3 linked regions of the Homo sapiens genome follow. The protein of the gene in region 2 interacts with the protein of the main gene of each other region in a pairwise test. Each region holds a gene or a part of one and is shown on either strand. Other genes may lie near its edges.

Evidence for each region.
Region 1: the proteins of DMRT3 (region 2) and PLSCR1 interact in binary tests that used the Homo sapiens proteins (3 or more experiments, as listed by UniProt).
Region 3: the proteins of DMRT3 (region 2) and GPSM1 interact in binary tests that used the Homo sapiens proteins (3 or more experiments, as listed by UniProt).

The regions. Positions count from the first base shown.
Region 1 is NC_000003.12:146,534,577-146,541,610, forward strand, and holds part of PLSCR1 (phospholipid scramblase 1), read right to left. Parts: intron 6,605-7,034; exon of another isoform or gene 6,581-6,604; coding exon of another isoform or gene 6,558-6,580; exon of another isoform or gene 4,176-6,557; intron 3,469-4,175; exon of another isoform or gene 3,420-3,468; intron 1,990-3,419; coding exon of another isoform or gene 1,977-1,989; coding exon 1,964-1,976; intron 1-1,963. UniProt on the Homo sapiens protein: Catalyzes calcium-induced ATP-independent rapid bidirectional and non-specific movement of phospholipids (lipid scrambling or lipid flip-flop) between the inner and outer leaflet of the plasma membrane resulting in collapse of the phospholipid asymmetry which leads to phosphatidylserine externalization on the cell surface.
Region 2 is NC_000009.12:979,638-986,671, reverse strand, and holds part of DMRT3 (doublesex- and mab-3-related transcription factor 3), read right to left. Parts: intron 1-7,034. UniProt on the Homo sapiens protein: Probable transcription factor that plays a role in configuring the spinal circuits controlling stride in vertebrates.
Region 3 is NC_000009.12:136,330,536-136,337,569, reverse strand, and holds part of GPSM1 (G-protein-signaling modulator 1), read right to left. Parts: intron 3,124-7,034; coding exon 2,902-3,123; intron 1,605-2,901; coding exon 1,469-1,604; intron 650-1,468; coding exon 498-649; intron 130-497; coding exon 6-129; intron 1-5. UniProt on the Homo sapiens protein: Guanine nucleotide dissociation inhibitor (GDI) which functions as a receptor-independent activator of heterotrimeric G-protein signaling.

The DNA of each region.
Region 1 (7,034 bases), on a different chromosome or scaffold from region 2:
CTTTCTCCTTCATAAATAGCTTCATGATGACTTCAGCGGAATCCAGTCCATGGTGATTGTGTAAAATCAGGCAAAAAAACCGCTCTCCTACTCGTTCAAGACTAGCCTGGCCAACAAAATGAAACCCCATCTCTACTAAAAATACAAAAATTAGCCAGGCATGGTGGCACGCGCCTGTAGTCCCAGCAACTCAGGAGGCTGAGGCAGGAGAATCACTTAAACCCGGGAGGCGGAGGTTGCAGTGAGCCGAGATCGTGCCACTGCACTCCAGCCTGGGCGACAGAGCGAGACTCCATCTCAAATAAATAAATAAATAAATAAATAACACAAAACAACAACAAAAAACAAATGAGGACTTTTCCCTGGACAAACATTGCAACATACCTTGTGATTTGTGAATCATCACAAATCTCTGAAACTCCCCATCATTCTTTCCCATCCATTCTCTTCTATTTCTCAGCATCAAGTGACTGACCTAACTCCCTAGTTCTCTAGCTAATAAGGCCCTGCCTGCAGCCCCTACTCCCAAATTAAGTTGGAAACACAGCATCAGACTCAGAATAGATTTCAAGAAAATATTTTGCAAGTCTGAAGTAAAGATCTACCCTTGACAGGTATGTCACATTGTGATACCTCTTAATAAGCAACATTGTTTGAATACTATAACATAGAACACACACACACACACATATACAGGAACAGACAGACTCAAGAAATCATGAGCTCACAATCTCTGGGCTTTTGGTACCAAAGCAATGATTCTGATTTCAGGCATTCCAGGGGGAATTCATACAAGGAGAATGAGTGAATGGGCAGGTGTTCAAGCAGAACAAAGAGCATGTTAATTATGGTTTGATTACTGCGTTTTTGAAATGCAACTTAAAATGGCTTATAAGAAGTACAAGTCTATCACATTGTCTTAAAGGTACTTTTTTTTATGTCTACATGTATGTATATATACATATTTACACATTTATTCACACACATATACACATTTTATTTCTATTTATGCAAATACATTCATACATACATACAATTATATATACAAAACTGAAGAGTTAAAAGTTGCCTATGACCATCACCAGATACATTTTTGTAAATTGAGTGGAATCAACTTAAAGTCTGTGGCAAATAAACCAGTATAATTCTATATAAATTTACATTTAAAAAGCTTTGAGTTTTGTAAGTAAAAAGAAAATCATAAAACTTCACATGGGAAAAGCAAGGAGTCTAGTCCTGGAGATTATTTCATATATCTAATAAGGGTGACACTGTAGTGACAGATAAATATTTTTTTGTTACCTCAACAAAGATGAAAGAGAGAATAAAGAAAAGCGTTTCAGAAAAACAGGATTTAATTTTTGAATTTAATTTTCCCTATGTAGTGGGAATTTTGAACATAATTTTCCCTCTGTTCTTCAGAACCTTGATATCTTAATAAGACAGTCTTTTATTACTTGCTTGATAAATATCCATCTTACTTAGAATTTTCTTGAGAGAAAAAAAGCCAGAACATAATGACTGGTATTTACTTAAAATACAAACATGTGTCTGTGATGAAATATACATTGAGGTGTGTATCTGAGGAGTTTATTACAATGAACTCAAATCTTATTATCTGTTAATTAGTATGACTTGAATAATCTTTATACATATAAAATACACAAAGAGAATATTGTTGTGGTTTAAATATATGTTACAGAACATATTTCCCAATAAATCTAGCATTTCTTAGCTTTCCAAAAGGCTTTCGTATTTTTAATGAAGAACCTAGTGATAGTGCTATTTTTGTACATCTTCTCTATAGTCAAAATACTGAACTAGACATTGTATTCTGGAGCATAAACAACAGAAAACAAATTATACACTTTCAGACACTGAATAAAACATTATGACAAATAACAAGTTACCAACAGATTAACATTATAAGGAGGAAAGTAAACATTTAAAATAAATTACTTACTTTGTTTGTCCATGATTAAAACAGTTCTGAAAAAGAAGATCTGACATTAACACACTGTCTACAAGGCCACAAGTCAAATATAACAGTTGAATCGGGATACTCTAAAACTACACAGTCACATTCATAGGATATTCCTCTTTATTCATCCAGCCCAGCCTTATCTGGTCATTTAAGCCCTTTGTGCTTGACTGCATTCCCCTTGCTGTGTTTCTGAGTAGGAATTTAGAAATTGTTGGTCAGCTCATGATGGTGAACACATTCTAAAGCCTTTTGGGAAGAGGGTCCAGTGAGGCAGAAAGCCATAAAGACACACTATGAGCTAAGACTCCAAGTAGTAACCAAGCTAATAACATCAACCTTCACAACTTGAACAATCTAAAGGAAATGCTTGGTTCAGTTCCCAGTCTTTGGACTGGAAATGCTTGGCCCAGTCTCTGGGCCCCAGGAATGTTCCAGCAGGAAAGCAAAAAATGTTAATTATCAGGTCACACTACTGCAATTATCTTGGGAAATGTAGGTCTTGTGGACCTGTTCTTTGCAAATTTGAGAAGGCCTGAGACGACTCCGTGCATTCAGAGATTTTTTTTTTTTTTTAACCAGAAAACCCACTCTCAGGAGTTGTCACAGCCATAGCACCTTGACCACCCAAGTGAAACTTTGTACTCGGTATTTATACAGAAACATAAATTGCAGCAAACATTCTACTCAATATTTCTGCCTTCCAGTGCCTTGATCCGATCCTAGTTTTTCCCACTACTATCCTGTCACTACTTTTTCCATCTCCTGTAGATCCCGATGCCCTTCATCCCTTTTAGCGACAATGCATTAGGCAAAACTCTGCTACCCAACATTTTTATCTTGGACCCACACACACTAACACAAACTGCCCATCCCCTTCCCAGGCCCACTCCAGTGCTGGCTACCCTTTAAATTATCTTACTGTGCAATCCTAAGTGGTTAATAAGTCAAGTGATCCCTCTACATGCTCAACTAAAATCAAGACTTCCCAAGAAGAAACCGCCTTCCTCCTTGCTGTTTCAGAATTATTTTTTGGCCAGGGATGGTGGCTTATGCCTATAATGCCAGTATTTTGGGAAGCTGAGGCAGGAGGATCACTTGAGTCCAGAAGTTTGAGATCAGCCTGGGCAACATGGACAGACACTGTCTCTACTAAAAAAAAATTAGCCAAGCATGGTGGCATGCGCTTGTAGTCCCAACTACTCGGGAGGTTGAGGTGGGAGGATTGCTTGAGCCTGGAATATTGACGGTCTAATGAAGTATGATGTCATCACTGCATTCCAGCCTGGGTGACAGAGCAAGACTGTGTTTTAAAATAAAGGGTTTTTTTTGTTTGTTTGTTTTGTTTTGATTATTGCCAACTTTAAGCACAAAATTTTATAATCAACTTAAAGTCTTAAGAACATTCCAATTATAGTCAACTCTTAATTATACATACTCAAGAAGTTCAGCAATGGTTGAATAATTCAAAATGGGTTTATGTGGTCCTGAAATAAATCAAAAGATGTGTTTGTGTTACTAACTTCCCAGATTTTCTTAGGACAATAGGAATCTCAGTTTGCATTAACTGGTCAGAAATTAATGCTGTAGACCTCAAGCCAGAAAGGTAGAAATATTAAAATTTATACTTTTCTGCTGTTAATCTATAAGGTGAGCAATAATAAACACATGTAACCAAAGTAGACTAAAAGTTTTCAAGACTACATTTGTTTTAGATTCCATCATATGAAGAACTGTGTAAGACTAAATTCATACATAAGAGGACATGATTTTTGTCAATCTCACATTTCTACCATCAAAGACTATACTTTAAAATGCCAATTTTTTAAAAATATGCGAAGAGTACTTTAACAGATATATCAGAAAAGATTAATACATACCGAATTAGAAGTAGGTAGTATCCTTTAATTAACACACTGGACTATACATCTCTAAAGTCTTTACCTGCCCCTTGCTTCTTATAGGATACCTCTCTATAACATGCTTAGCTTAAAAAAAAAATTCTATGGCCTTTAACCAATTTTAACAGAAATTTTAAGAAACTAGTGTTTCAATTATTCTCACCGTCCCTACAGGGTCAGAAAAGCACTAAATAATGTCTAAGGGCAAATCCTAAATAAAATGTAAGAGAAGAAACTTAGGCAAGTTTTTATTTTTTATTTTTTTTTATTTTTTGGCAAACAGACTACTCAACTGAAAAAAATTCATAGTTTCTGGATTGCAGATCTATACATCTGAAATAGAAAATATTTTTGTCATCATTTTAAAAATAATTTTTCTTAGCATTTAGTTGTTTTAGGCTTTCAAGTCCCATGCAAGCCAGAAATAAAGGATGTGCTGCAAAGATAGGGAATTCATAAACCCATGCTATGCATCCTGGTAAACAGTGGTCCCCAACCTTTTTGGCACCAGGGACCGGTTTTGTGGAAGACATGGACCAGTGAAGCAGGGGATGGTTTTGGGATGATTCAAGCGCATTACATTTATTGTGCACTTTATTTCTATTATTATTACATTGTAATATATAACAAAAGGATTATACAATTCATTATAAGGTAGAATCAGTGGGAGCCCTGAGCTTGTTTTCCCGCAACTAGACAGTCCCATGTGGGGGTGATGGGAGACAGTGACCGATCATCAGGCATTAGATTCTCATAAGGAGTGCGCAACCTAGATCCCTCACACATGCAGTTCACAATAGGGTTCTTGCTCCTATGAGAATCTAATGCCACTGCTGATCTGACAGGAGGTTGAGCTCAGGTGGTAATGTATGTGAGCGATGGGGAGCAGCTGTCAATACAGATGAAACTTTGCTCACTCTCCAGCTGCTCAGCTCCTGCTGTACAAGCCCAGTTCCTAACAGGCCACAGACTGGTACTGGTTGGTGATCCAGGAGCTGGGGAGCCCAGCTGTTAAGAATAGGTGGAGGATCTTCAGCAGGGAGTGTCATGAGTTTCAAGTCGTTGCCAAATGAATAACAACCATGAATACACATGGTATTTGCCTTTCACAAGGTCAGAGATCATTCTCTCCTTGCACAGAAATACCGGAAAGGAAAAGAAGCAGATTCTAAAACAATGACAATTTGTTCATATTTGCTCTTTTTCTTCCCACTTGGTTACATTATTTTTAATCTTAAAAGATAAGTTAGTGAGGATGAGACTTACTGGCAAAACTACTGCAGTATAAAATCTGGGTCTTTGCTTTACTATAGGTTTTAGAATTTTAGCATTTATATAATATCTCAAGCATTGAAAGTGGTATGTAATAAGCTCTGGTGCAAAATGTTAAGTGTTCCTTGTACCTGTACATGTGCCAAGTAGATAAGGCACTGTGTGCCAGGTCACTAAAGTCATCCACTATGTGGATGCCTACATTCCTGTTTGCTGTTATAATGATCCTTTGGGTTTTCTCAAGCTTAATAAGTCTATTCCCAGAAATACATCACTCAGTTTGGGGAATAACTGGGTGTGCCCTGAATGAATTAATGAGTTAATTAATTTAGCATGATAATTCATAAATAATGGCTTCTACCACACTTATTTCATTTTAAATTTCAGAAATACTCAGAGAAAGGGAAAATCATCTTTATGCTGTACCAAAAAATGTAATAAAGTTATGTTGTATATTGTACCATTGGAATAATAATTACTCCAGTATGAACACAGAACTTCAAATATAATCTGATTTTTTCTAACTCTGTTAACTAAGACTTTGGAGGAAACTGAGGCATCATATATTATTTGCATACAAGTACATCTCTGTTAAAATTTTTCTATCAGAAATCATAAGTTCCCATTGCTTCTCTGGACTATTTGATAACTGTAACCTCTACTACCACGAAGAGGAAGACACAGCACAGGGGATTTCCAGTTCTGGCTTCAAAATTCATATTACAGTGAAACTCTTTTGACCCATCTCTTGAGGTCCTGAAATTTTTATCTTACTGCTTTCAAAAAGTATTACTGTAAAATCTGGAACCCAAAGGGGAAGCATACTTAATTTTGAAAGTTCCTAAAACTAAAATTTGTTTACCCACACCAGATTTGGATTATTTATTTAAATTTACTTGTTAATTGCCTAAGAACAAGCTCCTTCCCTCATTCCCTCAAAACAGAAGATAAAGCATTTCACATTCTCTTCAAGCCCCAAGATAGGGATAAATGTTTTGAATTATGTTAGCAAAATTCTACTGCTCTGAAAACAAGAATTCTAGGTCCCTAACTTCCTCCGAATAACTGAGAATAAGATACTAGACTAGAGGAAAGGTAGGAATTTCAAGTAGGCCAGGGGAACATTACAGAGGTAAGTCACAAATCAAGTAACTTCCATGTCATTTGGGTTATGTTTGTACATAAATTTTGTACCTTTAAAAATGTTTAGTTAACATCTAAGAAGGAAAAATATTCATCTGTTGAACTCCAGTTTTGGTAAAAGTTAAGCTTAGAAAAAATTGATACATTTAAGCAAATGGGTGGGGCAAGCAGGTGGTGAGGCTTTGAGTATACAGCACATCATACTTGTAAGATACGGGATGAAACTGAGGTGACTGTGGCTGATTATAAATGCAAAGTACCTTGTAACAAGGAGCCATTCCATAAAAATCCTCTTGTGTATTTTATGCTGAACAAACAAAACAAATATGCTTAAAACCAGTTTAGGATAGCCTTTTATAGCATTTTATATTAAACCTTGAATAAAAATGTAGATGATACATCAACTAGGACCAAGTGAGATGGTAGTGATCAAGTGTTCTACAAAACTAAAAAGTAAACCAAAGAGACAAAGGAAACAAATACTGAATCAGTTATTCTCATTTGATTGCTTTACTACTCTGAAAAGCCTTTCCTGACAACCCAGAGCTCCCTCACAAATTTGCTTCCTTTCCTCCTAATAAATGGTGAAACTAAACCCATAGAAATAAAAGTGATTTTAATAAATGTGATACAGCTTGCTAACTAGCTGAATTAAGATGATTAATAATTCATATTCTTTGCACCGATGTCTCTAATTCACTGAAAAAAGGAAGACTGACATCCTTCAGTGAAATTTG
Region 2 (7,034 bases):
ATCCACCCGCCTCAGCCTCCCAAAGTGCTGGGATTACAGGAGTCAGCCACCACGCCCGGCCAGCTCAACTATTTTTAAAAGAAATATATGAACCAAATAGCTTTGTGTTTTAAAAGGTACATCCCCTGCCCCCACTTTAGATAAGTTTCAAACACTGAAAACATATTAGGAAGTGTTTTCTCAGGTCTGTCAACCAAATTGACTCTTCCACAGTACACTTCAGTCTCCAGAAAAAAAGTGGATCAAACAGCAGAAGGCTAACTGAAAGGGGAATTAGGGAATGAGGTTCTCACTAACATAATGACTCTACCATTACAAAAATGGAGGCTTTTTTTTTTCAAGGTAGCAACAGATATACTGTCCCAATCAACTGAATACTTGATACCAGGATTACAAGTCTGACAATATAAAATTCCACTCTTGTACCTATTTTCCTAAGTTCTGCGGAACAGACGGTAGTGGAATCTTATGTCAGTGCCAGCTTGTTCAGCAATTGTGAACTCTCAGACTGTGAAAGTCACTTTCTCATTTTGTTGTGTTACCCTTTGCCCCTGCTACTGGGACATGCTAGTGCATCATGCACTTCTGGTTACTTGTCAAGGAGTGGTGATAGATTACACCGAATCCTCCATGCTCTCTCCGCAGGTCTCTGTGCCGTCTGGCTATAGCCAAAATATGAGAAAAGCTAACACAATGTCACAGGAATCAAATCTACAAATTCAGCGTAAACCAACCAACCAGCTGAGCTCAGCACTGCTTACACTGTGTTCAAAGGAAAGACAAAGATGATGAAAGAACAAGCAGAGCACACCTGTGAGGCTTATGCACCTGAGCCGCACACAAGGTCCTGCTAAGTAGTGCTGGGTGAGCCAAATCCCCATCAACATGTAAGGCTGTTGGAGTTTCAAAACTAGGCAAAGGAAGACTAGCCTCTAACTTTGCACCAAGAATAACTCCTCACCAAACAATAATTTCTGAAGGGCAGGATATATAGTTCCTGCAATTTTGTGGCGCTATGGTGTCTAGTACTGGTTGTATTATTGCACCTAAACTAAATATATTGTAAATTATTCTATTATAAATACAGACTTTCACAGGTAATTATAGAGGGTGAGTTTTGAGCCCAGTGATAAAGTGTAATTTAATAACAGGTACTTCTTTACATCTCCAGATTTGTTCTTAAATAAACTTTACAAATCATTCTAGTTGGTTTAAAACATAAAGGCCTTTCTAGACATAGAAATGTGAAACTGCCAACTAACAAAATAAAATAGGAAATACTCCTGAAACATTTTACCTTCTTTCTTCTTGAAACTGAAACCCTAATTCCTAGAACATTAAGAGTGTATATCAACTGATAATATTTTTACCCCGGTAGATGGGTATAGAAAGTCAAAGCTATTAAACAGGGAAGAAATCAATTTTATCGAATATGACAAATATTACTGAAAGTGATACAATATGCTGTTTCTATTGCTAAACATGTACATATTTTTAAAATCTTAATATTCTCTCTTCCATTTCATATTTCATGGGGTAGAAACACTTATAGCTATCCCTGAAATAAACTGTGCACTAGGGTAAAGAGGTTTTTAAAAGAAGTAGATATTCAATTAAAAAGAAAAGTTTTTCTACAGATAACAATGCTACCGACTTCAAAATATATATGCCATAAGATGACTACAATACTTTTTTTTCTTTTTTTGCTACAAGACTTTAAAGAGAGAAAATAAACACTCACAAAAGTGCTTTCAATCTAAAATTACAGTTTGAAAATGTAACTTTCTTTAGGGGAGTTTTTCACATAAAAATGCAATTTAGTAAAAAAAAAATGTATTATTTCAAATACTTTGAGAAAGTCTACCACATATGAGAAACAAACATTCTGCTCACGATGCATAAAAGTGAAAAATCTGGCTGGGCGCGGTGGCTCACACCTGTAATCCCAGCACTTTGGGAGGCCGAGGCAGGTGGATCACGAGGTCAGGAGATCAAGACCATCTGGCTAACATGGTGAAACCTCATCTCTACTAAAAATACAAAAAAAAATAGCCGAGCATGGTGGCAGGTGCCTGTAGTCCCAGCTACTCAGGAGGCTGAGGCAGGAGAATGGCGTGAACCCGGGAGGCAGAGCTTGCAGTGAGCTGCAGATCTCACCACTGCACTCCAGCTGCGGCGACAGAATTAGACTGTCTAAATAAAAAAAAAAAAATGTGAAAAATCTTTCTGACTTAGATGTCATAGGTTATATCCATTCTATCCAATTATATCTACGAAAACAAAATAGTTCTTACATACAGAATGAAAACACAGAAAAACTCGAGCAGAGAGGAATATTTCCTAGCTCAAAAGTCACTGGACTCCCCCATCCCTTTTGAAATCATGTCACGCATTTTGAAACATAGATTGTCATATCCTCATCTGTTCACTTGAGCTGTGGGGAACACACCTGTAAATAACAGGTCCTTGATGGGTAGTTTTCAAAGCACATAAATCTTACAACAATGGCAAGGGAGGGAGCCCAGGCAGGATGAGACTTTTACAGGAGACCATTGCCTAATCAGAATTCTAATCGTAGACAAACGCTTCACATTTTCTCTTACCTTCATCTCACACTAGAAGTGATGAATTATTTTAAAAAAATGAATAGTTGAAAATCTAAAGAACACCAGGGAATGATCTCGATCTAAAAACTTTCCTTTTCTTCCTGGGGTGGATTGCCGGGTTGGGGAGGGTTGTGAAAAGTTAAAAAAAAAAAAAAAACTAGCCATGCTTTACTTTTTAAAAAATCATTAACAACACTGAATTAATAACGTATGAAGGAATCAGAGTGGTTCCTTGACACTATATTTTGGGGGAATATTGCTATAGACAGGACTGGGCTGAAGGAAGTATGGTTTGCAACTGTGGACCTCACATATTTTGTAAAAAATTAGTTTTGATCTCTTTCTTGACTCAGAAGGGAATACCTTCCAAGAAGCAGAGGGGAAATTACCTACAAATCTACATGTTTATTTGGTACCTTCCAAAATGCACCTGTCTAACTCATCCATCTATTTAACAAATGCCCCTAAATGCCTTACTATGCTCTCATGTACTGTGCTGGGTAAGATCATACAGAGATGATCAAAGCATTGCCTCTTGACCACTGAGAGGCATACAGTTTACTAACTAATCTTTTGCAAAATTCCAAGTAAGCTGCAGTTGGTTATATTTCACAGTGAAATACAGCAAATAATTCCAAGGATAGCAGCTGGGCAGACCATGGTGTCTTCACAGGAGGAAATATTGTTTTAAATGCTTACATATAAAGATTATGGGTGCTAGAGATATATACTGAACTAAACAAAGTAATAATCAGTGGGAAAAACGTGGAACACTAATCCCAGCTCTGTAAAATTTATGTCTGCCTAGTTGTTGTAATCAAGAGATTGGAGATTTTGTAAAGAATTGATGTGCCGACTCTTAAGTTTTTCATTATTATTATTGTTACTTGGTACTTGATTGTGCCTTTTATAGCTGTTTATGCAATAAAATGCAAAAAAACCCCATACCTAGTTATTTTAGTTTCCCTTCTGAGAACAGTAGTATGCATTGCTCAGGCAAGAGGATGACTCACTAAGGCGATGTGGGACGTAACTGACACAATCACAAGGCGGTGGACCTGTGAGGACCAGCTGTCCTATCACTGCATCCTCCACCTCTGCCATGAGCACCCGTGCACAAGCCATCAGAGCCACACAGGACTAGACAAGGAGGTCCAAGGACCTGAGCAGCTAATGGCTAAGGGGCTGCAACAGGTTTAAAGGCGGGAAGAAAGGAAAAAAGCAAGAGGCGAGGAAGAAAGGAAGAGAAAGAAAGAGGAGGCGGGCAGGCAGGGCAGGCAGGCCCATGGTTTTTTGCTGGGCTTAGTCCTCCTTCCCGTCAGGAAGAAGTGCAACATTTCCAGAAAAGGGCTCCGAGTCCTCCAGGGACTTTGATTTATGAAGATTTATTCCTTTTCTCTCTGTAAAGCTGTTAGCAGAAAGTGCTGACTGGCTGCAGCAAAGAATTTCTCATCAATGCTCTTTGATTGTATTTTGCAAACAAAATGCCTGTTGCTTGGTAACATTTCACTTGAGCCTGACCTTCTCCGAAAGTTATTGCTATCAGATTCGATTCACACTGTCCTCCTGTGATTACTGTAATCTTTTAAACCCGGGAGTTCATCCATCAGGGAAAAAGAAAAGTTGGTTGTGTAAGTCGAGAGCACGGCTATCCTCCAGATTTATAACACCAAGGAGTGATTTGGAGGTGGAGAGAGGTTCTTTCCCAGATGGCAGTAGAACTCTGGTTCCTAGACGTGGAACACACTCTCGTTTTTCCTGCCAAACCGTCCCAGATCCACAGGATGGACCCCAGCACCTCCCTGACGCCAGTCCCAGGCAGCTCGGGCTCTGCAGAGAAAGAACTAGGAGATGAGCACAGGCGACCCCACCGCCAAGGGGTGCCCTGCGTGGGTACTGGGGCTGGGTGAGGAAGGCCTAGGCCTATGGTTGCCAGATAAAATAACAGGATGTCCAGTTAAGTGGGACCATCAAATAAACAAAGAAGGCTTTCTAGAGAAAGTATGTCCCATGCAATATTGGCATCCTATTTTTTGTTTGCATGATTTTTGCAGAAGGTGTCAACTCACCTCGGGACTCCTGCCTTGGGAAGGAGAGGGTAGTGAAGCTCAGGAAGAGCAGAGAGGGAGTGGTGGCCCAAGAGCTGGGCAAGGGAAAGGCAAGGGATGTGGCTGTCTCTGGGCGGTTCCTGAGCTGCCTAGTGAGCTGCTTCCTGACAGTGACCAAGGAAAGAGCCGTCCCCAGCAGGCGGCGAGAAGCTGGGCTCAGCTGCAGCTCCGACCCCCTGGTGCAAGGAGACGGCAGTCCATTGCGGCCGCAAGGAGCCGCTGCCCCCTATCTTTGCCCCTACTTTGAACCCGCTGTGGCCAGGGTCCCAGTCCTGGGCCAGCTGCCGCAACCCTCCGCAACACACACACAGCAACTGCACTGCGTGCAAACCGGCCAGGCCAAGAGCTGGGAAGACCGGTCCCCAGCAGCATCCCAGCCCCAAGAGCCAGCCCTGGGGTGGGGTTTGGAAGAGACCTTAGTGCCTGTATGCGTATTCCTTTTTATTTGGTTGGGTTTTGTTTTTTAAAATGCAACTGAGTCAAGCCCCTCACCCTCAAATCAAGCTGTCTTAAAATGAGACCCTGTTTTTCAATTCACAGGTACACTTCATAAATGGTTTTTAAGTATTTCCCGCTTTTCTTTTCTTCCTAGCCAACAGTCAGAGGGTTTCTCATCCTGGCCTGGACGAGTGTTCCGTAACACCCATTACACTTGCAGGTGCTTCTCTTTGGGGGAAAAAAAAATTAAAAAAAAAGGAAGTGGACTTTGCGGGACCCAGTCAAGCCGGAGCAGAAAAGCCCAGAGGCAAGCATAAAGATGCTAGGAGGCGCAGGGCAAGAGGAAAAAATAAAATAAAGGCAGTTTTCCAAAATCTCCTAACTTCTCCCCCTATAGTTATCTTGTTTGCTCCGCCCCCACCCCCTAAGAAATAAACAGGAAAGAAGATCCTACTTTCCCATTTGATCCTTCTCTCTTATTCCTAACCATGTTTTCGATTTCTTTTTCCTTTTAAAAGCATTTAAAAGAATGTGTGTACATATTCATTTTGATGGCAGATGGAGACCTAGGAAGAGTCTACAGCCACAGATCTTTCTTCTCATCGCACCACAGTCTAAGGTGTCCGAGGACACTCCCCTGGAGGAAAAGTTGGGGGTAGGGAAGGGAGCCACAACACAAGAATGTAACTTTAGCTTTTCACCTTGGCAGTGACCCTTAACTTCCCTCAGCTCTTGAGCCCACGTCCTGAAAGGCTGGCTAGGCTGATTAAAACTGCTGATTCAGATACACTAACAGTTGGAAGATCTTCATGCCTCCTGTATTTTCATGGGGAGAAGGAGTATGAGAAGAACATAGAGGGAATTTAGGAGAAGAATAAATGAATTAAATAGTGTATGTATATATACATATATATATACACACACATATATAGCTTAAATTAGAATTTAAATTTAAGCTATATATATAGCTTTTAATAGATATATATAGCTTAATATATCTATACATAGCTTAAATCAAAATGTTCAGCTCAATCAAAATCTAATAATTAATTCCAGGTCCATCGTAGATGGTAATCAAAGAGAAGGAGAAATCTACATTCAAAAAGAAAAAAGAATACTTCATAACTAGAAGTAAAAACCACTAGAATATGAAAATTCTCCTTAAAAACACCACACATTGAAAGGGATATTCAACATACTACACCATTAGATAAAATAACCCCATTCCTTTAAAGAATCTAAAGCAGAATTTGAGAAAAAATTCTTCCAGTTACAAAACTGAGTTTTGATGTGAATATGTCACTCCCTCAACGGGGTGGTTTTCCTCCAGTGATTCACAGCAAACATACTCTTCCTTAAGGCATGTGCTTTTCTCAAAGATTTCTGGAGAGGAAAGACTCCATGTGCTTCTGTTTACAAGAAAAAAAAATCTCTCTTCACAGCTTATGTATTAAAGAGGTCCTTTGCCCCGCAAAAAGACTAACCACATTTCAAAGTCAAAGTTCACAAAGTAATAGATCTACATTGCCAGCAGATATTGAAAGATTTCTGATGGTCTGTATACTTAATGTACATGTGGAACTACCATTCCAATAGAGTTCTGCTTACTCTCTGCACTTAGTTTTGCTTACTCTCTGCACTTATTCAGGAGTAGTTCTGATATGCTTCTAAATACATATGGAATGTTATACACAAATACATTATTAGAACAACTGCAAAAAGGGTATAATACCTATAGCAACAGGCAGTCTCAGTGAGCAGTTTTCTTCAGCTTAAACCCCAAATAGACTTTATTTCTACAAGCACTGTGTAGAATGGATCCACTTGTATGCCTGTCTTCCTAAACAATCATCTATTATTTTCCTACCTTTCTCCCCACTCC
Region 3 (7,034 bases), about 140 Mb from region 2:
CTCACCTCCTTGTGGAAGGTCGTGGCCTCTGTGAAGTTCCCCAACAAATAGTGGGTGTTGCCCAGGTTGCCGTAGGCCCTGCCCTGCGCCGCACGGTCGCCCAGCTCCTTCACCAGGGACAGGTTCCTCCTGGGGGCCGAGTGCCTCTGAGCCGTGTCCCTCCCAGCCCATGTCCTCACCCACCCCAGGCTAGAAGAGCTGAGTAGCGGCCTCCATGCGGCCTCAGGGCCATGCCCTGGAAAGAGGGTGGCTAGGGTAGGCTCCAGGGTCCTCGAGCTCTGAGACCTGGGGCTTGGTCATGTCCCCCAAGTCCCTGACAGGGGCAAGCTCAGGGGAGGGAGCCAGCAGCTGAGAAAGCGGGGGTGGGCGGACCTGGCCGTCACTGCCCTGGGAGCTGTCGGGAGGTATGGGGCTGGGGTCGGGGGTCTGGAAGTGTCTGTGGAGCTCAGAAACGCACAGGCCAGCCCCGGTCCCTGGGCTGGCCCTGCCCCACTCACTCGTAGAACTCGGAGGCCTTGCACAGGGTCTCTCGGACATCGGGCGGCAGGTGCCCGGGGTCCTGCGTGGCGTTTGCGGCGTTCCAGGACAGTTGCTTGCCTTTGGCGTGGTACACGTTCCCGATGTTGTAGAGGGCCCTCGCCTCCCCAACCTGTGGGCAGTACGGAGGGTTGGGGGCATGCCTCCACGGCCCCCCACACGATGTGCAGAGCCGGCACACCGGTGTCCTCACTGTCCCAGCCCTCGACAGCGAGGGCCTTGGGGGCTCCCACTGAGTCACAGACACTAAGGCAGGGGCGGAAGCCTGAGGACGGCACACCCGGGAAGCCAGCCTCCGCCCTCCCTCACCATCCCTCCCTCCTCTGCGGATTGGCGTGGCCAGGGTGCCAGGTCCTCAGCTCTGTCCTCTGATGACCGAGGCTGAAAGCTCCAGCTGGGACCAGATGCTGCGGCCTCAAGCCCCCTTGGTCACCTCCAGCTGTGTGACGGGGGGTAAGTCACGTCCCCCCAGCCTTGGTTTTCTCGCCTCACAGGGCCATGGAGGGAGGTCAGCAAAGCCTGTCTCGGGTCCAGCACAAGCGGAGACGGAGCCACTCTTCCTGCTGTCACCACCGCCATTGAAATCGGCCTCCCACTGCCGCAGCCCAGAGCCACCCCCTGCCTCCCGCTGGGCCCCCCAGGGAGTGAGTGACTGGGGGTGTGGAGGGATTCGGGGGGAGGTCACCGAGAGGGGCGGCAGAACTGAGGGTGGAAGGTGGGGGCCTGGGCTGCAGTGTCAGCATGGGCTGGGGGGGCCTGTTTTGGGGGCCCACACTCTCCTGAGTCACTCGGGATCTAGGGGACCGACCTCCCTGTCATCCCTCCCATGAGGAGCTGGATGAGTGGTGAGTCACCCGCCCGCCCCTATCCCGGATCTGGACGCAGGCCGGTGCAGGGGTGGGAGACACCCAGCCCCGGACCAAGCCCCCACCTTGTCTCCCTGCTCTTGGGCGATGCTCAGATGCCGCTGGCAGCAGACGGCAGCCTCGTCGAAGCGCCCCAGGACCTTGAGTGTGTTTCCCAGGTTTCCACTGGCCTTGGCCTCCCCCATGCGGTCACCGATGGTCCTGGATGGCAGGGAGGAGTGAGGGGTCAGGCTGAGGACTGGTCAGGCCTCTGGGCCCGGGGGGAGGCTGAGCATGGGGTGGGGTAGCTGGGCCTCAGGGACCAGCATGGAGTGGACAGGAGCCTGCAACCCCTGAGGTGATACTGGGCAGGGGCCCACAGGCCGGGCAAGTGAGGCCCGAGGGCAGCCCTGGGTATGGGCTCTGCTGGGCTGTGTCTGGGGCACAGGCTCCTGCCCATCACCACACAGGCTGCACACAGGTGCCAGGAGCTACACACAGGACCTCACGCCTGGGCCTGGGGCAGGGGGCTGGGGTCTGCAGCTCTTAGGATCCGGGGAGGACTTGGGGGGCCTGATGGTGGAGAACTAACTTCCTGCTAACTCATTCAGAGGACGTTTGGTGCATGCCCACCAGACACTGAGCTGGGTGCTGAGGAGCAGGTGTGAGCTCACTGGCCAGTGCGGGAGGGTTGCTCCAAGAAGCTCTGCCCTGCTGAGAGGTCAGGGCAGCTGCAGGGCTGAGGGGGAGGGCGCTGGGCAGGGCTGAGGCAAGGGAAGCGTGCTCCCGTGAGGCACGGCCTGGGGGCTGGACCCGACTGGAGACCCCAAGACCCCAAGGGGCGGCGGGGAGTAGGTTGGGGAGACTGGGGAGTGGATGACGCCAGGCAGGAAGGAGGCTGTGAGTGGGAGCTTGGGGTCCATGGGAAAGCAGGGACAGCCCCCAGGGCAGGACCACACCTCACTGAGCAGTGGCTGGGAGTGGGCCCGGGGCTCAGGGCCTGGGGCCTGGGGCCAGGGAAAGGGTGGGGCTCTGAGCCACACAGGATCACAGATGGGCCACACACAGTCACGAGTGCTCACGCACAGCACGCGGGTCACAGCCCAGGCTCTCACACGCAGACACACAGACCCACTCACGCCTGTCAGCTGAAACCCAGCTCCCTGCCGGGGTCCCAGAGCCCTGGCTGCCCTCCAGGTGAGGGCTTCCCCACTGCGTTCCCTTAGACCCTGCTTGCCCTGTCCCCCTCCTCAAACTGTAACTGCTGAGGACAGGAAGCGTCCACCTGCCAGCAGGGCCACCCCCACTCACCCGCCAGCAGGGCCGCCCCACTCACTGCTCCAGCAGGGCCGTCCCCACTCACCCGCCAGCAGGGCCATCCCCACTCACCCACCAGCAGGGCTGTCCCCACTCACCGCGCCAGCAGGGCCGCCCCACTCACCCACCAGCAGGGCCGTCCCCACTCACCGCGCCAGCAGGGCCGCCCCACTCACCCGCCAGCAGGACCGTCCCCACTCACCGCGCCAGCAGGAGGTCATGCTTGTGGTATTCCAGCGCCCGGCCGTGCTCCTTCAGGTAGAAGTAGGCGTTGCCCAGCTGGCTGTAGATGGCACTCAGTGTCTTCAGGTCCTCGGTGCCCACCTGCACAGCAGCCTCAAAGAAGGCCACGCCTGTCTTGAAGTCGCCCGCCTTGCACAGACGCTCGCCCTCCAGCGCCAGCTCTAGGCAGGACGCCTCCATCCTGTGCAGAGGAACTTGGCGTCATGGCCCAGCCCTGGCAAAGTCGCCCCGGGGCCGGAGCACCTCCGTGGCTTCACTACAGACGACGCCCCTGGGTGGGCTAGGGCACACACCACATCTGTGCTCACAGACCTAAGTGTCTCTTTGGGATACAGGCCTGGAAGCACGTGTGCGGCCCAAGGGCGCCCCAGCCAGCACACCTCTGCCAGCACCTCCTGTCCACCCCTTGTGCGGCCAAGGTCAGGAACGCCACTGGGGCAAAGGTGTGAGTTTGTGACCCCGGCAAGACCCTCAGGCCCAGGGGCCGGTGTTGCAGGGGGTGTGGCCCCCATACCCTGCCTTCACCCAAATCCCAGAGGTACGGGCTGCAGGGGCCAGGCACCCTAGCCATCCTCCTGAGCGACCACAGCTGCTGGGAGAGGCCCCCCTAATTCCCACCAAGAACAACTGAGGCTCCCAGACGGTAGTGGGGGCTTGTGAAGGCCACATGGGGGTCGGGTGGGGTGGGGATCTGATCTCGGCTCCTCCCCCACCCCCAAGCTCTCCCAGCCAGGGCCTGGGGATTCAGTCAGCCTCCAAGTCTCCAGGGGAGACCAGTGCTGCGGAGGTGTGGCTGCGGGTTAGCCAGTCCCAGCCCCTCTCCTCCTGGTCCCCCACCCACAGAGCTAAGCGCTCGCCGCTGCCAGCCAGGACAGGCCTGAGAACCCGCTGTTCCCAGGTGCTGCCCGCCACCCCCAGCGCTGCTGTGGGAAGATGTGGATGGCGCCCCATCCCAAGGTGAACTCCGCCGTGTGAGCGCCACCTAACCCCAAGGGCCAGGCCCTCTTCTGAACACCAACGCCCTGCTTGGCCGTGGTCCCCCACCTTCGGGCAGGGACTTTAGAGAAGAAACCCCTCACCCTGGGCCCTGCACAACCCCCAAGCACCCTGTGCGTCAGCTGCCACCCTAGCCCTGCTCACCGAGGGACCCCCACCCTGGGCCTTGGGGAGCTGCCCTTGGCACTCAGCTGCCGGGGAGGAGTGTGGGGTCACTCCGTGGCTGCCCGGCTCCGCACCTCCCTGCTGCCTGCTCTGGGGCCTGGTGTCCTCCTCCATCCTACTCTTACAGGTCACATGGGCCTCAGGCTGCTGCGCTGCCCTGGGTGGAGGGTCGCGGGGGGAGGACACACCCAGCAGATGCCATGGGGTGGCCAGTGTGAGCAGGCGGGCCCCCATCTGCAGGGTGCCCCCGGAGAGCCACAAAAGACTCAGCAAGGGCGCAGCTTGGGGGGCCCCAGGAGGTGGCAGGCACAGCTGGAGCCCAGGAGGGACCTGATTTCAGAGAAGTGGGGGAAGGGTTCAGCCTCGGCTGCTTGCAGGCCGGCCCCATCATTCCTGTTTGCTTTCTGTTGCTTTCATTTTTCATTTTTAAAACTTATGTTACCATTATTATTTTTATAGAGACACGGTCTTGCTCTGTTGCCCAGGCTGGAGTGCAGTGGTGCGATCTCGGCTCACTACAGCCTCCATCTCCCAGGATCAAGCCATCCTCCTACCTCAGCCTCCCAAGTATCTGGGACTTCAGGTTTGCACCATCATGCCCAGCTTTTTTTTTTTTTTTTTTTTTTTGGTAGAGATGGGGGTCTCACTATGTTGCCCAGGCTGGTCTCAAACTCCTGAGCTCAAGTGATCCTCTCACCTCAGGGCCAGGCCCTCCCACCCACTACCTGCCAGGCACCTCACAGCCACCTCACCCATCCCTCTGGGAATGGCCATCCGGATGCCACGTGGGTCACAGGAGCCCACCGTCGCCATGACAACCAGCCAAGCCCCATCCTGCAGCCAGCGCCACGCACGGGGCTTCCTGATTAAGGCCCACTTGCCCCACCCAGCCACTTTTCAAGTGGTCTCACTCGGTTTACTGCCCCCTCCTTCCAGGCAACATCGGAGGAGAGGGGCTTCAGGCCTGAGGCCTGGGTGTCTGTGGAGCCCAGACGCTGCTGCTCCGCAGATCTGATGATGGGAGCCACCTCCCGCCTCCCTTCCAGCCGGAGACGTGGCATCCGAGGCTCAAGGCGAAGGAGGCTTCTGGCCTGGGAAGGGCCTGGGCCTAAAAGTCGGGGATGGGTGCACGGATGGGCCTCTGTCATTCTGCACCTCCAATCTGGGATCCAGGCAATGCAGCCAGCCACCTGCAGCTGCACCAGGTGGGTGTCCCCTCCACTCATCCCAAGACAGCCTCCAACCACGCCCTGGCACCCACACCCACGTGACCACCCCACTCGCTGCCCGCCGCACCTCTTCCTCTGCAGGTTTCGCATCTTCTGCACGTAGAGCCACAGCTCCAGGCCCACGGGCAGCAGCAGCGGGCGGGGGCGGGGGGCGCCATACACCACCTTGCACACGGCCTTCTCCGCCAAGCTCAGGGCCAGAGGCGGGCCCTCCCCAGCAGGGGATGGCATCGCCAGGCCCCAGGCCCTCCTCCCCCAAGCCAGCCCTCGCCCCACCATGGCCACGGGTCCTGGGGGGTGGGCTGGCCTTAGGCTTCCCTGCCCTCTGACCTCCAGGATGGTGGGTTTAAAGCTCGGCGGGGGACTGCCAGTCCTCCAGCAGGTGCTCGGGGGCCTCCCCAATCCCTGACGTGGATCAAGGGATCAAGGACAGCTCAGAGGCTGGGTCAGCCTCGTCAGCAGCGGGGCGGGGAGCCCTGGGGTAATCCCGTCCAACGTGCTCCTCCAGGGACTGGGACCAGCGGCATTGCCCTCCCGTCAGTCACCCGCCAACTCCTCTGCAAACGTTTATCCAGTTCCCAGCGGGGGCTGCTCTGCCCCAGGACCGGGCTCACTCGGGAGCGCCAGGCACGTTTGTGAATGGAAAGAGGAATGGCGTCCAGAGTGTGTGAGTGCCCCCAGCCCAGCACCTCTTCCCCCAGGCCTGGCCCAGGGCTGGGCAAAGCTGGAATTCTGCGCAGTGGTGGCCCCTGGCCGCCTACCGGTTCTCCAGGCCCCTGTGCCTCCTCTGCTCCACCCGACCCCACCTGGCCCCCTCCCCAGCCTCCCTGGCACCAGCCCACGGTGCCAGCATGGGGCAGCGGGGGGGGGGGGCTCAGAGTCCTCACCATGCCAGCCCCACGTCTGCCGGGCCCTCTGTGCTCTCCCTCACCTGACTGGCCAAGGTGCGAACAGGGCCCCAGGTCTGACGGGGTCAGGGCCACGTGGGGCCTGGGGGATGCCGCTCCCCAGGTCGTGGGGCTTGGGAGGCATGGACCACGTTCCCCTAGCCTGGCTCCTTTCCTCAAACTTCCCAAGCCCCCGGCGTCCTTCTCAGCTGGGCTCCCAGCTTCTCCAGCCACCTGTGGCCCATGAGGAGGCTGGAACCTGACAGAGGCGGGGGACTGGGGGGGCAGGTCTTATCCCTGAGACGGCCACGGGGTCTGAGCAGAGGCAGGAATCCAAGGACAGGTGGGGGTCTTCAGGCCCTGGGCTCTCTCCTCCTTACCTTGAGGCCTTGTGGGCTCAGGGGTCCTACTCAGGCCAGACCATTTGTCCACCTTCAGGACAGCTTGGCCAAAGGCGGGGCAGGACCTAGAATGCCTCTCCCTTGCCCAGTCCTCGTCAACAGACTGAACCCTCAGACCCTCCGTGGTGGCTGGGGTGCCATCACCAAGGCCAGTTCCCAAGCCAGCACTGCAACTCCTACTACCTCCGGCCACCCGAAAGCCGTGTCCCTCAGTCCCAGCCCTGCTAACAGAATTGGCACCTGCCCCTCCCCAAGGCCGTCACCTACATGCTGGCCCCTGAGCAGATGCTGAAGAGACTCTGCTCACAGCTGGCTCTATCTGCCCCATCCCCCAGCCAGACACCCCCAGGGAAAACCACACCGACTCCCCTTCAGTGGCCAGGGGAGGGGAGAGAGTGAGGCGCAGGACCGGGC